3 separate regions of the Homo sapiens genome follow, and regions 1 and 2 are each reported to be linked to region 3. Evidence: microRNA targets listed by miRTarBase, many of them from high-throughput screens and not tested one by one. Region 3 holds a microRNA gene; each other region holds the end of a gene's coding sequence.
What was found. Region 3 holds the annotated microRNA hsa-miR-3165 (AGGUGGAUGCAAUGUGACCUCA, at 1,795-1,816, shown strand). A microRNA usually pairs through its seed, bases 2 to 8, with sites in the 3' UTR of a target mRNA and lowers its output. Matches are read on the target gene's strand: a 7mer-m8 pairs with bases 2 to 8, a 7mer-A1 pairs with bases 2 to 7 and ends in A, and an 8mer does both.

Region 1: miRTarBase lists SSBP2 as a target of hsa-miR-3165. The part of its 3' UTR that is shown has no 7-base or 8-base seed match.
Region 2: the mRNA of MYOM2 is a reported target of hsa-miR-3165. The part of its 3' UTR that is shown has no 7-base or 8-base seed match.

What each region holds. Positions count from the first base shown.
Region 1 is chr5:81,416,713-81,420,712 of GRCh38, forward strand. It overlaps SSBP2 (single stranded DNA binding protein 2), which reads right to left. Exons shown (of 17, transcript NM_001256732.3): 17 at 1-3,821. The coding sequence ends at 3,792. Among named protein-coding and RNA genes, the nearest start is that of ACOT12, 25 kb to the left of the region's middle.
Region 2 is chr8:2,144,755-2,148,754 of GRCh38, forward strand. It overlaps MYOM2 (myomesin 2), which reads left to right. Exons shown (of 37, transcript NM_003970.4): 37 at 1-702. The coding sequence ends at 227. Among named protein-coding and RNA genes, the nearest start is that of MIR7160, 70 kb to the left of the region's middle.
Region 3 is chr11:72,069,939-72,074,087 of GRCh38, reverse strand. MIR3165 (microRNA 3165) reads left to right here and starts at 1,786; the gene lies at 1,786-1,860. All of the region lies in intron 1 of NUMA1 (nuclear mitotic apparatus protein 1), which reads left to right.

The DNA.
Region 1 (4,000 bases), not on the chromosome of region 3:
ATGAAATGCAATGGAGTTCAGATATCTTAGAGAATCATAAAAATAGAAATGGAAGTTTTATTTTATTCTGGAGGGAAAGGGCTGTTTTGGGCACTTTTCATGGCTGGGGGAGCAGAATTGATTTACTTGTTAATCTTTTTGGCAATTGAGAAATCTTTTCTATTTTTGAGATGGAGTCTTGCTCTGTCACCCAGGCTGGAGTGCAGTGGCACAATCTCGGCTCACTGCAACCTCCGCCTCCTGGGTTCAAGTGATTCTCCCGCCTCAGCCTCTTGAGTAGCTGGGATTACAGGCAGCCACCACCATACCTGGCTAATTTTTGTATTTTTAGTAGAGATGGGGGGGTTTCACCAGGTTGGCCAGGCTGGTCTTGAACTCCCGACCTCAGGTGATCTGCCCACCTTGGCCTCCCAAGTGCTGGGATTACAGGCATGAGTGCCCAGGCGGCAATTGAGAAATCTTAACTTCGGATTCCTAGCTGTGAACTTCCTCTTTATCAGCAACTGACTCCATACTGGAACATTTTCAAAGGAGTGCTAATAAGATTCACCCATCAAATATGTGTTGTATTACAAGATCAATGACACCCTACAGCCTTTGTTCCCATGGGCAACTTTGCTGTAAGACACGTAGTTAAGAATCATACATACCCTCAGAAAGAATTTGACATGTATTTTCAAATGCAGTGAGTTAGGCAGAATGCAAAGCAGAGTAACAAGATTTTACCTACTGCTTACTTTTTCATTTTACATGTGTATTTAATATGTTCAATGCAGCAAGAATTGCTGATATTATTACTGTGAGATGACGTGTAAAAATAACACTAGGAACAGGTAGTATACATCAAGACCAACACGAATGCATTGATAAAGATGGAAAACACAAGAGAAAAACATTAAATAGTCTTATTACAAGAAAAAAGGATAAGGGTTAAATGATTCAAAATCTAAACAAAAATTAATATACAGATATACTGTCTTCCATTCAGTGCATGAAAGAATTATCTGGATATAAAAATCAAGTATCCTTACATTCTGGGTTTCTTGGATACAATTTTCTCCTCAAAAATAATTTTTCAACTATTTCAGGAAATTTTTAAATCTAAAATAACTCTTTTTAATCTGGGCTCCAAGAAGAAAAAAGAAATAAATACTTATAATCAATTGACTGCTCTGCCTTGAAAAAAAAAACGAATTTTACTTTTAGGTTAGAAATAATGGGGATCATGATGCAATTCATATTCTCGTATTACCCCCAAAATAAGGGTAGATAAAATCATATTCATCATTCTTTGTGATAAGAAATAATACCTTCTCAGAAGGCGAAGAAAAGAATTTCAAGATCGGTAACAATGGAGAAGAGTCAACAAAATATTTGAAAATTCTAGCATTATAAGATTAAGCTTAATAATCAAAGGACTGTCAATTTTTATATGATTGTCATAAAATATGAAAGTCAAAATTCTTCTTGGTAAAGTCAGGTGTCTGGACAAACTATCACCTTCATTCAGGTTACCCTGGCTTGAGGTAAAGACCTTTTCATCTGAATTTGCATGAAAGGTTTCTGCAGCTTGACAGCATGAGGCTGTTCTCCGGTGTGCACTCCTAGGCACCTGAATACTGTGTGTGATTAACTGAGGCTCATTTTATGATAGTTTAAATCTGCAACATAAATTTAATTCAGCTTTTTTTTCTCAACAGTTCTGCCTAGTATCCCTGTTTAGGCACAGGCAAAATCTTTATTTTTACAAGGACTAAATCATTATGAATTTGAGAGAAGTAAGTCATCAGGAACTAGTACATACAGTCATATGTTACTTAATGATAAGTATACATTCTGAGAAATGCATTGTCAGGCAATATTGTCCTTGTCTGAACATCATAGAGTGTACTTACACAAACCTAGATGGTATAGGCTCCTACACACCTAGGCTATATAATATAAACTATTGCTCCTAGGCTACAAACCTGTACAGCATGTTACTGTACTGAATACCAAAGGCAACTGTAATACAATGGTATTTGTGTATCTAAGCATAGAAAAGATATGCTAAAAATATGGTATTATAATCTTATAGGACCACTGCTGTATATGCAGTCTGTGGTTGATTGGAATGTCATTATGAGCTGCATGACTATATCCTGCCAAATTTTCACTTTAGAGACTATAAGCCTAAAGGAAAGAGAAGATTCCTCTTACCTGCAATTAAACAATGCTTTTCAAAGTCTCTAGAGTTTGGATTCATAGTTGGTATTTATCAATGGTTGTTTGTATCACAATTTTAACACAAAGGATCACCCAGTTATCTTTCAGAGTCTAAAATTAAAGTCTTCATATCTTTCTATTGTGATTTTGGTGTATGTATGTATAATTAAGCACAAAATCCCAAAAGATCTGGAAAGTGCCATAGAGCAAGGTGCTTTCCATAAGGGAATTAGATTAAAAAAAATTTACTTATTCTTTTTTGAACAGTCAGTTACACAATGTAGTTTTAGCCTGCTGAAGTCAATGGCTAGATAAAGCAAAGTTACTATCAATGATTTGCTCCTGAATAAAAGCCTTATATTCCAGGAACAGAGCAGAGGCTCCCTGGCCAGTGAGAACCAATACCAGTCAATTCTGCTGGTAGCAAGCAAGATACCTGGATAGAAAAGCAGCATTCCAGAGGCCTCAGGAGTGCTAATAACTCTCTTCTCCCTTGTGCTCAAAGTCTCCTTCTATGTATTTATTTCTAGTGTCTATAAGAATATGCTCACAAAAAGTCTGAATAAAAACCAGATACCATTTCACATTAGTATGTTATTAAAAATTTACCTCTAGTACTCCTGGTGAGAAGTGACAAATTCAAGCAAATGCTTTTGTTATCACTTTTGGGCTTCATCATGTTAAAGAGAAAAGATGTTGCTAAATATATGACAACCCCGGTCACTTTATTGCTATGGTCTAAATGATTTGGGCTATTTAATGATTTCTGTATCATCTAAGACAAACAAATCAAGAACTCCGTTTAAAGCAGTTATTGCAGAAATATACTGTGTGAGGCCCCAGTTAAGCTTTTACTGATTTGAAGTGTTTTTCTCAAATAAAAATTAAAAAAATACTTTTCACTGAAGGTAACTGAGAAATTGTTTGATTCAACATAAAGACGAAGACACATTTTCTTCTATTTTTTGAGACAGTACACTTTGTGATTCACAGGATAACTTGCATCAGACGCAATTTAATGAAAGCTCTCAAATAAGCGATTTTATTCCTATCCATGATTGCAGACATTTACAAAACCATAACATCTGAGTTCACCTTAAAAAATAACTTATATAAAGCAGTGATATACACAGCACAAAATAGTTCAGGGAGGGGGCAGGAGCAACTTGTAATAATTAAAATGTAAACGTGAAAAAAAGGATGGAATAAAAGTCCCTACTTATTTCTACTTAAGATGTCATGTGATAATATTTTACAATGTCCTGTGGGTCAATGTATGTATGTGTATATGTCTGTATAACATACACATATACAGTACATTCTCTTTCCCACACATATACATACACACATAATTATTTGCAGTTCAGTTTAGGGCAATTCTAATATGCCACTCCGTACAGTTGTTTGAATCACATTTGGACCCGCTTTCTTCACAAAAGAGGGGAGAGAGCAGGAAATAAAAAGGTTGGTTTGGTGTGACTGAGATTCCTTTGTTTAACTGTACACTGTGATGAATAATTTTCTTCCGTAGTAGTTCTGTGAAGGGCTGACTCACTGTGGTTTTCATGAGGAGACTTGGTAATGGATCACACGCTCATTGTCATGCTAGGGGAGTACTAGAAGGAAAGAAGAATCCATATTTTAACAACAATTCTTTTAGAGATCACTAAGGTTCTTCTTGGTACAACAGAAACGATGAATTCTAATTTCTTATCATCTTTTATGTGCAAGCTTTTCATCTCATACAACATAAAATAAGAAACTATAAAAAAAGTAAAATGATACAGACTTAACT
Region 2 (4,000 bases), not on the chromosome of region 3:
TCTCGGTGAAGGTGGAGCAGGCCAAGTACGTCAGCATGACCATCAAAGGCGTGACCTCCGAGGACTCGGGCAAGTACAGCATCAACATCAAGAATAAGTATGGCGGGGAGAAGATCGACGTGACAGTGAGCGTGTACAAACACGGGGAGAAGATCCCGGACATGGCCCCGCCCCAGCAAGCCAAGCCCAAGCTCATCCCCGCGTCTGCCTCAGCGGCAGGCCAGTGAAGGCGTTTTCCTAGCCTGGAGATGGGAAAATATGCTTGGCAGAGACAGGAATGCTGTGTGCTTGTTCCAAATGAGCAGCTGGCATCCGAGTGGTGTCCTGTGTGGGCTGATAGTTGATCACACATTGTGCTTTTGATTTTTGCATTTGGTGATGAATATTTTATACCCGTCTAAGGGAGAAAGCTAATGTTTTCCACAAGACTGAACAACGTGTATTTACACGAGGGTAGACGGCAGATGCCTGACAGAGAGTGGGTTGGCAGACAACACACTAGAATTTTCACGGGTGTGGGCACATGGGTGTGGCACCTGGACGTGTGCAGCATGTGGCGGTCTGTGTGAAGCCACCGTGCTTCTCTTTGGGGGGCCGCGAGATCTAGCATCTCTGAAATCCTGGCTGTCGAGGCTTTGAAGCATGTGTTACCTGGTTAAGCTTGTTTTCTCTTGCTTTAGGCAAATAAAAGTTTAAAAATCACCTTGTTGTGGTTTTCCTGTACCAAATCACACCTACCTGCCCCTGCTCACCCCCTGGCTTGTTTAATTATGGGTTATCATGCACTTTCACGGCTGGTGGGGTGCAGATAGTGCACTCACCCTCCAGAGAGCAGGGCATGGTGAATCACACCCCCAAAGCCCCTCCGACCCACGGGGCTGGGCTGCTGGCCCCCAGCGGCACCCAAGACGGCACCAGTCCTAAGAAGTGTGCGTTTTGTGCAAGGCTTAGAAAGGCCACCTAGTGATTATACCACGGATCTAAAAGTCTCTGTAGAGGAAAATGAAATGCAAAGATGGCTCTGTTCTTTTTTAGTGTGCTAATGAATTAGGAAGGGATTTCAAAAGAAAGAAGGCACTCATTCAGAATGATCACTGCAGTAGCCATGGAGGAAAAATAAAAACTTGGCTGCCTACACAAGGCCTCTTGGTGAAGTTAAAAAACGTGTTTAGGAGGAACATACCCTCTCTTTGAACTTTTTCCTCCTTTGTTTGGAAAGAGGCTGAAATTCTTCTGGCATAAAAATCCCATTTCAATATTTTAGTTTTATTGTTGCTTTATAACAGAAAAAGCTTTGATAATTAAGAATGTTTTACCTTTCTGTGTCATTAAGGGCAATCCAAATTTTACGAGAATTTGTTATATTTTTCTAAGGTAATAATACAAATCCTGAGAATTAAATATGTCCCCAGTAACATAAAGCTGGCTGAGCTGGTTTCCATGGCAGTAAAGTGAGTATCAGCAAGAATTTTATTTTTGTTATTTCTCCCTTTTCTGTCGTGCAGATGAACTTGAGCGGAGTTTGTTCTTATTGCGTGGTGGCAGCCGCGTTTTCCAAAGCGTGCTTGGCAAGGGTAGGCGCAGACAGTCTCAGTTTGACCTTGATTTAGTTAAACAGATTTTGTTTATTTTCCAGTTTAAACAGTCATTTTTGTTTAGCAATCGTGGTTCATGGGAAATAATTCAAATGGTTGTGAATTTCTTGAAGCCATATATACTATTTTTAATAGACCTCCTTTTTGAGCAGTTTTAGGTTCACAGCAAAGTTAAAAGGAAGGTAGAGATCTCCACTCCAACCCCTACCCCCACCACAGCTTCCCCCGCTACCAACACCTCCCACCAGAGGGATGTGCTTGTTACAACCGCTGCACCCACACTGACACGTCACCATCCTCGCAGGCTGGAGTTTACCCTGGGCTCGCTTCTGGCGCTTGTTACAACTGCTGCACCCACACTGAAGCGTCAGCATTGCCGGGGGCTGGAGTTTACCCTGGGCACACTCCTGGTGCTGTTGGCTCTGTGGGTTTGGTCGGGTGATCAGGACTCAGGTCCACCATTGTAGCATCATGCACAGTCTTTTCTCTGCCCTAAAAATCTTCCCTTCAACCACTGAGCATTTTACTGCCTCCATAGTTTTGAGTTATAATATTTTTTAAAAGACTTTTTTTTTAAAAGAATGAAATAGTCTTAGACATGCAGTAAAGTGTCTTTACAACGGCGCAGAGAGCCCAGTGGACTCCACAGTCTTCCTGTTGTTCACGTCTCGCGTTGCTGTGGGGCGAGACGATGGCCTCACCTCCGGGTGGCCTTCAGACCTCGCTGGGTTCCCCCAGTGCCCTCTCTCTGTCCCAGGACCCATCGAGGACACCAGATGAATTTGCTGTTCACGTCTCCCAGCCCCTCCGTCCTGCGATGGTTTCTGTCTGTCCTTGCCTTTCATGACCTTAGTGGCTTTGAGGAGTTTTGCTGGTTATCTTGTAGGATGTTCCCCAATCCAGGTCCCCAGTCCAGGGAAGACGATCTTCGTGTGATGAGACTGGGGATGTGTGCTTTTGGGAAGAGGAGTCATGTGGGGTGCCCGACATCCGCTAACCTTCATCACTTGCTCAGGTGATGTCTGCCTGCTGTCTCCCATGAAATGCCTGCTTTTTCCTCTTCTCCTTCTATTCCTTGGGAGCCTGTCTCAGCCCAGACCACCCTCAAAGAAGCAAGAGCATGGAATCACGTTCACCTCTTGGAGCAGGAGCATCTACCTCTGTTATTTGCAATTCTTCTGGAAGAAAGATTGTCTCCTCTCCCTATTTATTTATTTATCCCATCATTTACTGACATCTGTATGGACTCTTGTGCTGTATTTCAGCTCTGGGATGTGACCCATGTTTCGCCATGCATTTTCTTTCTTTTCTTTCTTTTTTTTTTTTTTTTGAGACACAGTCTCCCTTTGTTGCTCAGGCTGGAGTGCAGTGGCACGATCTCGGCTCACTGCAACCTCTGCTTCCCAGGTTCAAGCAGTTCTTCTGCCTCAGGCTCCTGAGTACCTGGGATTACAGGCACCTGCCACCATGCCCAGCTAATTTTTGTATATTTAGTAGAGATGGGGTTTCACCATGTTGGCCAGGCTGTTCTTGAACTCCTGACCTCAGGTGATCCACCTGCCTTGGCCTCCCAAAGTGCTGGGATTACAGGCGTGAGCCACCGCGCCCAGCCTACTTTCTTGCTCAGGTTTTTCCAGTGTTGGCCACAGGGAGCCCTTTCTGCCGGCCTCCGGGGTCTGTTCACAGCTGCCTCTTTGGGCACAGCCTGGTTTTCTGGCACTGCAGGACACCCAGGCTCATCTGTGCGTTCCCTGCTCCAGTCCTAGACCCATTTCTCCAAGGACCCCTGGTTCCTTTTACTGGAGGGTGGGATTAGAAGCCAAGATCTGGGTGCCGCTGTGTTTATGCAAATGAATATCTCAAGATATGTGATGCCAGTCGGATCACCCCTACTCCCTCAGGGCAGAATGCGGAGAACTGAGCACCTGGAAAGACATCGAGGTCGCCCACTGCCTGTGCCTGGAAGTCCTGGGCTTGCCCCTCTTGGAGGAAGTCAGGGTTCCGCCCTTTCGTCGCTTTTTAAGAATCCGTGCATGTGGCAGTGGAGGCAGCGAATGCTCAGCACGGAGAGGGCCGTGGTTGGAGCTCTTCGCCTGAGTCGTTTCATTTGACAGCTGTGAGGATGACACAAAACAAGGAACGGGAAGACACCAGGAGGGTACAGAGTCATTTGCCGAGGTATTGATTCTGTGAAAAAATTAAATTTTCCTAGAGCCATTTGGAAATGCATTTCATACGTTGTCGGCATCCCACTTCTCTGTCCCTTAGTGCTTTGGTTTTTTCCCAAGAACAAGGAGCAGAGTGTTCCCTTGTGTTTCCACAGCACAGCTCTTAAAGTCAAGGGACCCGACCGTCACACAGCAGCGTGATCTGCAGTCCATATGCTAACCTTGCCAGTCATCCCG
Region 3 (4,149 bases):
TGAGTAGCTGGGATTACAGGCATGCGCCACCAAGCCTAGCTAATTTTTTTTGTATTTTTAGTAGAGACGGGTTTCCCCATGTTGGCCAGTCTGGTCTTGAACTCCTGACCTCAGGTGATCCACCTGCCTCAGCCTCCCAAAGTGCTGGGATTACAGGCCTGATCCACCGCAGCCAGCCTCGGAAGCTACTTCTTAAAGCTCTGTGAGCTAAGTTCTATTATTACTATTCTCTTTTACAGGGAAGGCAACTGAGGCACAGGTAGATTAATCTCCCCAAAGCCACACAGTTTATAAGTGGTGGAGTTGACATCCTAATCCAAGCATTCTGGGTTCTACATCCCACATTCTGAACTTCTACAACATGCTGAAATTTCTTCCCTGTGGCAAACCAAAATCAGTCTTCCTGTAACTTCCACTCATTAGTTCTGGTTTTGTATTCTTATAGTGGACTCATAAGTCTTTCTCCTCATCTATGTGAAAGCTATGCGTATATTTGAAAAAAGTTTTCTTGTTCTCCCCTGGCTAAAAGTGTGTAGTTCTTCCTCCATATTTGAAATGATATACTTCTAGACCCTTTGCCATGGTCATTGGTGTTCTTCCTCTGCAAGTCCTCTAACTTTGCTCTTCAAAGGTGGGGCATAGAGTCATCTTCTACTAATGCAGCTTAAGACTGCATTGATGTTTTGGGTAGCTCTGTCAGATTCATGGTTTACTGAGAGTGTGCTTAATAATGGCCTCTCCTCTACCTCCTACTGTGGGCAACTTTTTTTTTTTTTTTTTTGAGACAGGGTCTCGCTCTGTCACCCAGGCTGGAGTGCAGTGGCTGTCTTCCCACCTCAGCCTCCTAAGTAGTGTAGCTGGGACTACACCCGGCTAATTTTTTTGATTTTTAGTAGAGACAAGGTCTTGCTGTGTTGCTCAGGCTAGTCTTGAACACCTGAGCTCAAGCAATCCTCCTGCCTCGGCCTCGCAAAGTGCTAGGTTTATGGGTGTAAGCCATTGTGCCTGGCCTAGGCAGCTTTTTTTTTTTTTTTTTTTTGAGACGGAGTCTCGCTCTGTGTCACCCAGGCTTGAGTGCAGTGGCGCGATCTCGGCTCACTGCAAGCTCCGCCTCCCAGGTTCACGCCATTCTCCTGCCTCAGCCTCCCCTCCCGAGTAGCTGGGACTACAGGCACCCGCCACCGCGCCCAGCTAATTTTTTGTATCTTTAGTAGAGACGGGGTTTCACCGTGGTCTCTATCTCCTGACAGTGTGATCCGCCCGCCTTGGCCTCCCAAAGTGCTGGGATTACAGGCGTGAGCCACCGTGCCTGGCCAGGGGAATAGTTTTGACAATTCCTCTGGCAAATTGGAGGAGGAGCTGTCTAGAAAGGCCAGTATCTTGGGTCTCATTGAGGGGAGGAGAGAACCAAGGTAAAGGGTTGGCTATTAGGTAATCAGTCGCGGTAATAAGGGGCCATTTGGCAGAAGTAAAAATGAGGTATCTGATGGCTGTAGAAGGGAGAGAAGGCATTATTGCATAGCATGCTCCTGGGTTGAGGCCTCTGTTGGCAGCTGTGTCGCCTGCCCTTTCTGTCCTATTGAAGGGCCAGTTTCTTTGAAGTCTGCACAGGAAATACCAGTGATTCAGCCTTGCAGATTTCTTCTGCCTTATTGCAGCTGAGGACTGGTTTATCTGGTGAGGAGGAAAGACTGCATATATTTCAGGCATGTTTATTTGATACTTGAGTGCCTTCCTGTGACTGGCCAGAGACACTTGTTTTGCAGATTGTCAAATTTTTGGTACCCGGTGGCAAGGTGGATGCAATGTGACCTCAACTCTTGGTCCTCTGAGGTCACATTGTATCCACCTTACCACTGGGTACTAACGTGTGGGCAGCAGCTGCATTCTGCCTAGCGAGTGGGCATTTGTTCAGTGCCTGTACTTCTGTGATGGCCTCAATGAGGAGTGAGGTAATTGCCTGCTTTTCTAGATTTCCTGTGGTGTGACAATGTGAGTTTTGGAGAAACCTCTTATTCCCTAAGAATTTCCTACTATACCCCTCATGAGCTGCAGCAAAGTGGACTCTGTCTGATTGCTGACCTCCAAATGCCCAGTTTCCTTAGGTAGTGAGCAGATACCTAAAGTAATGAGTGCCTATTATATCTGTCACAGAGCTGAGTATATAAAAAAGTATATAATACAGGATTTCCCTCCTTACTAAATTATTTTATTTTGAAAATTTTCAAACCTATAGATATTTTGCAAAATAATGTAACAAATACTTATATACTTCTCATTTAGAGTCACTATTAACATTTTGCCAAATTTGCTGTCTATTTATCCTTCATTTTCTGAATCTTTTTGACTGTTAGATGTAAATATCATGTTATTTAATCCCTATTTCAGCAAGTATTTCCTAAGAAAAAGGTATCTTCCTATATAACTACAGTACTATTAACACTCAGGAAACTTAACATTGATTCAATACATCCAGTATATAATACTTGTTCAGATTTCTCATCTTTTCCCAGTGATGTCTTTTATTGAGTTTTTTAAAATTCAGGATTCATTGAAGGATCATGCATGTATTTATGCACTTAGTTGTCATGACTATCATGTCTTTAGTCTGCTTTAACTTTGAACAGTTCTTTTTTAATCTGAATGCCTTTTTGTCTTTCATAGCATTTGTCTGATTCTTCTTGATTAGATTCAGGTTAGGCATTTTTGGTAGAAGAACTATATAGATTAATACAATAGTTTGATTGATGAGGCTGACACTAAAATACATAGAAGCAGTATCTGATTTTGCAAGACAGTATATAATTTAGCACTTATTTGTGTTGTCTAATCTATAAACCCTATAGGAATTTACAGAAGAAGGAATTCAGTAGGACTTGGATAACTAGGAATGAAATACTTTGGCAGAAAGATGGGGTTTGGAAAATGAACAGAATTGGAGGCAGTTGGGATATGGTTAGATAAGCTGTGATTTGGGCTTCCCATCCTACTATTAAGGTTGTGTATCATGAAAAGTGACTTTGAGGGTTCTGTATCTTCCATGGTGTTTGCACTGCTAGAAGCCTAATGGTGTAGAGCTCTTGCTTTGGCATCAGACAGGTCTAGAGACTGTGCCCAGCATTTTGCCAGTTACCTAACCTTGGGGAAGTTTTCTCATTTGCAAGATAGAGTATTAATAACTATTTAAAAGGTTATCGTGATGCTCACAGTGAGACACTACATAAATATTTGAATTAAAATATTTGAATGCCTTTAGGGGGGTGCAGCGTTTCCTAGATCTGCCATGTGCCCCACTGGATCATTCATTTTGTTTTGTTTGGATACGTGGTTTCGCTCTGTTGCCCAGGCTGGAGTCCAGTGGCACGGTCTCAGCTCACTGCAGCCTCCCAAGTGGGTGGGACCCAGGCACACTCCACCACACCTAGCTAATTTTTTGTATTTTTGTAGAGACGGAGTTTTACTATGTTGCCCAGGTTGGTCTGGAACTCCTGAGCTCAAGCGATCTGCCCACCTTGGCTTCCCAAAGTGCTGGGATTACCGCTGTGAGCCACTGGGCCTTGCCTGGATAATTTGTTTCTGTTACCTGCCTGACCCCTGAAGATGTTTGAATTTACCACTCCTGGATAATTGAAAGCAGGGAAATGAGAAAAGGCTTGGCTCACGCAGAGAGAAGTGGGAAGACTGGCTTGATCAATTCAGAGTATATTCTGTAGAATAGTGGGAAATAAGGTTGAATAAATGACTTGAGGCCATATAATGGAGGATTTGGAAAGTTAAGCCAAAGAATTTAGATATGATGCTTTAGGGAGAAGAAAACTGGAAGATTTTTGAGCAGGAGGAGAGACACTTGAAAATGAGAGTGGTGTGGGGCCTCCTGAGGAAGAAGTTTTCTGGCTTAAAGACTGAAATCCTAACAGGGCAGGGCCTTCACAGTGCTGACCAAGTGTGGGTGTGGCTTGGCAGTCTTGCCACAGAAGGCCAGAATTTCTGCCCCAGTGACTCTTCCTGCTCTGCCACTGACTCACCCCGTTGACCTGGCCTGCATGGCTTCCCTTCTGCTTGCTGTCTGATCCACAGAACGCTGGGGTTGCCCAGGATAATGTGAGGCTGAGCTCACTAAGAGTGGGTGGGTTAGGGGAATGAATAATC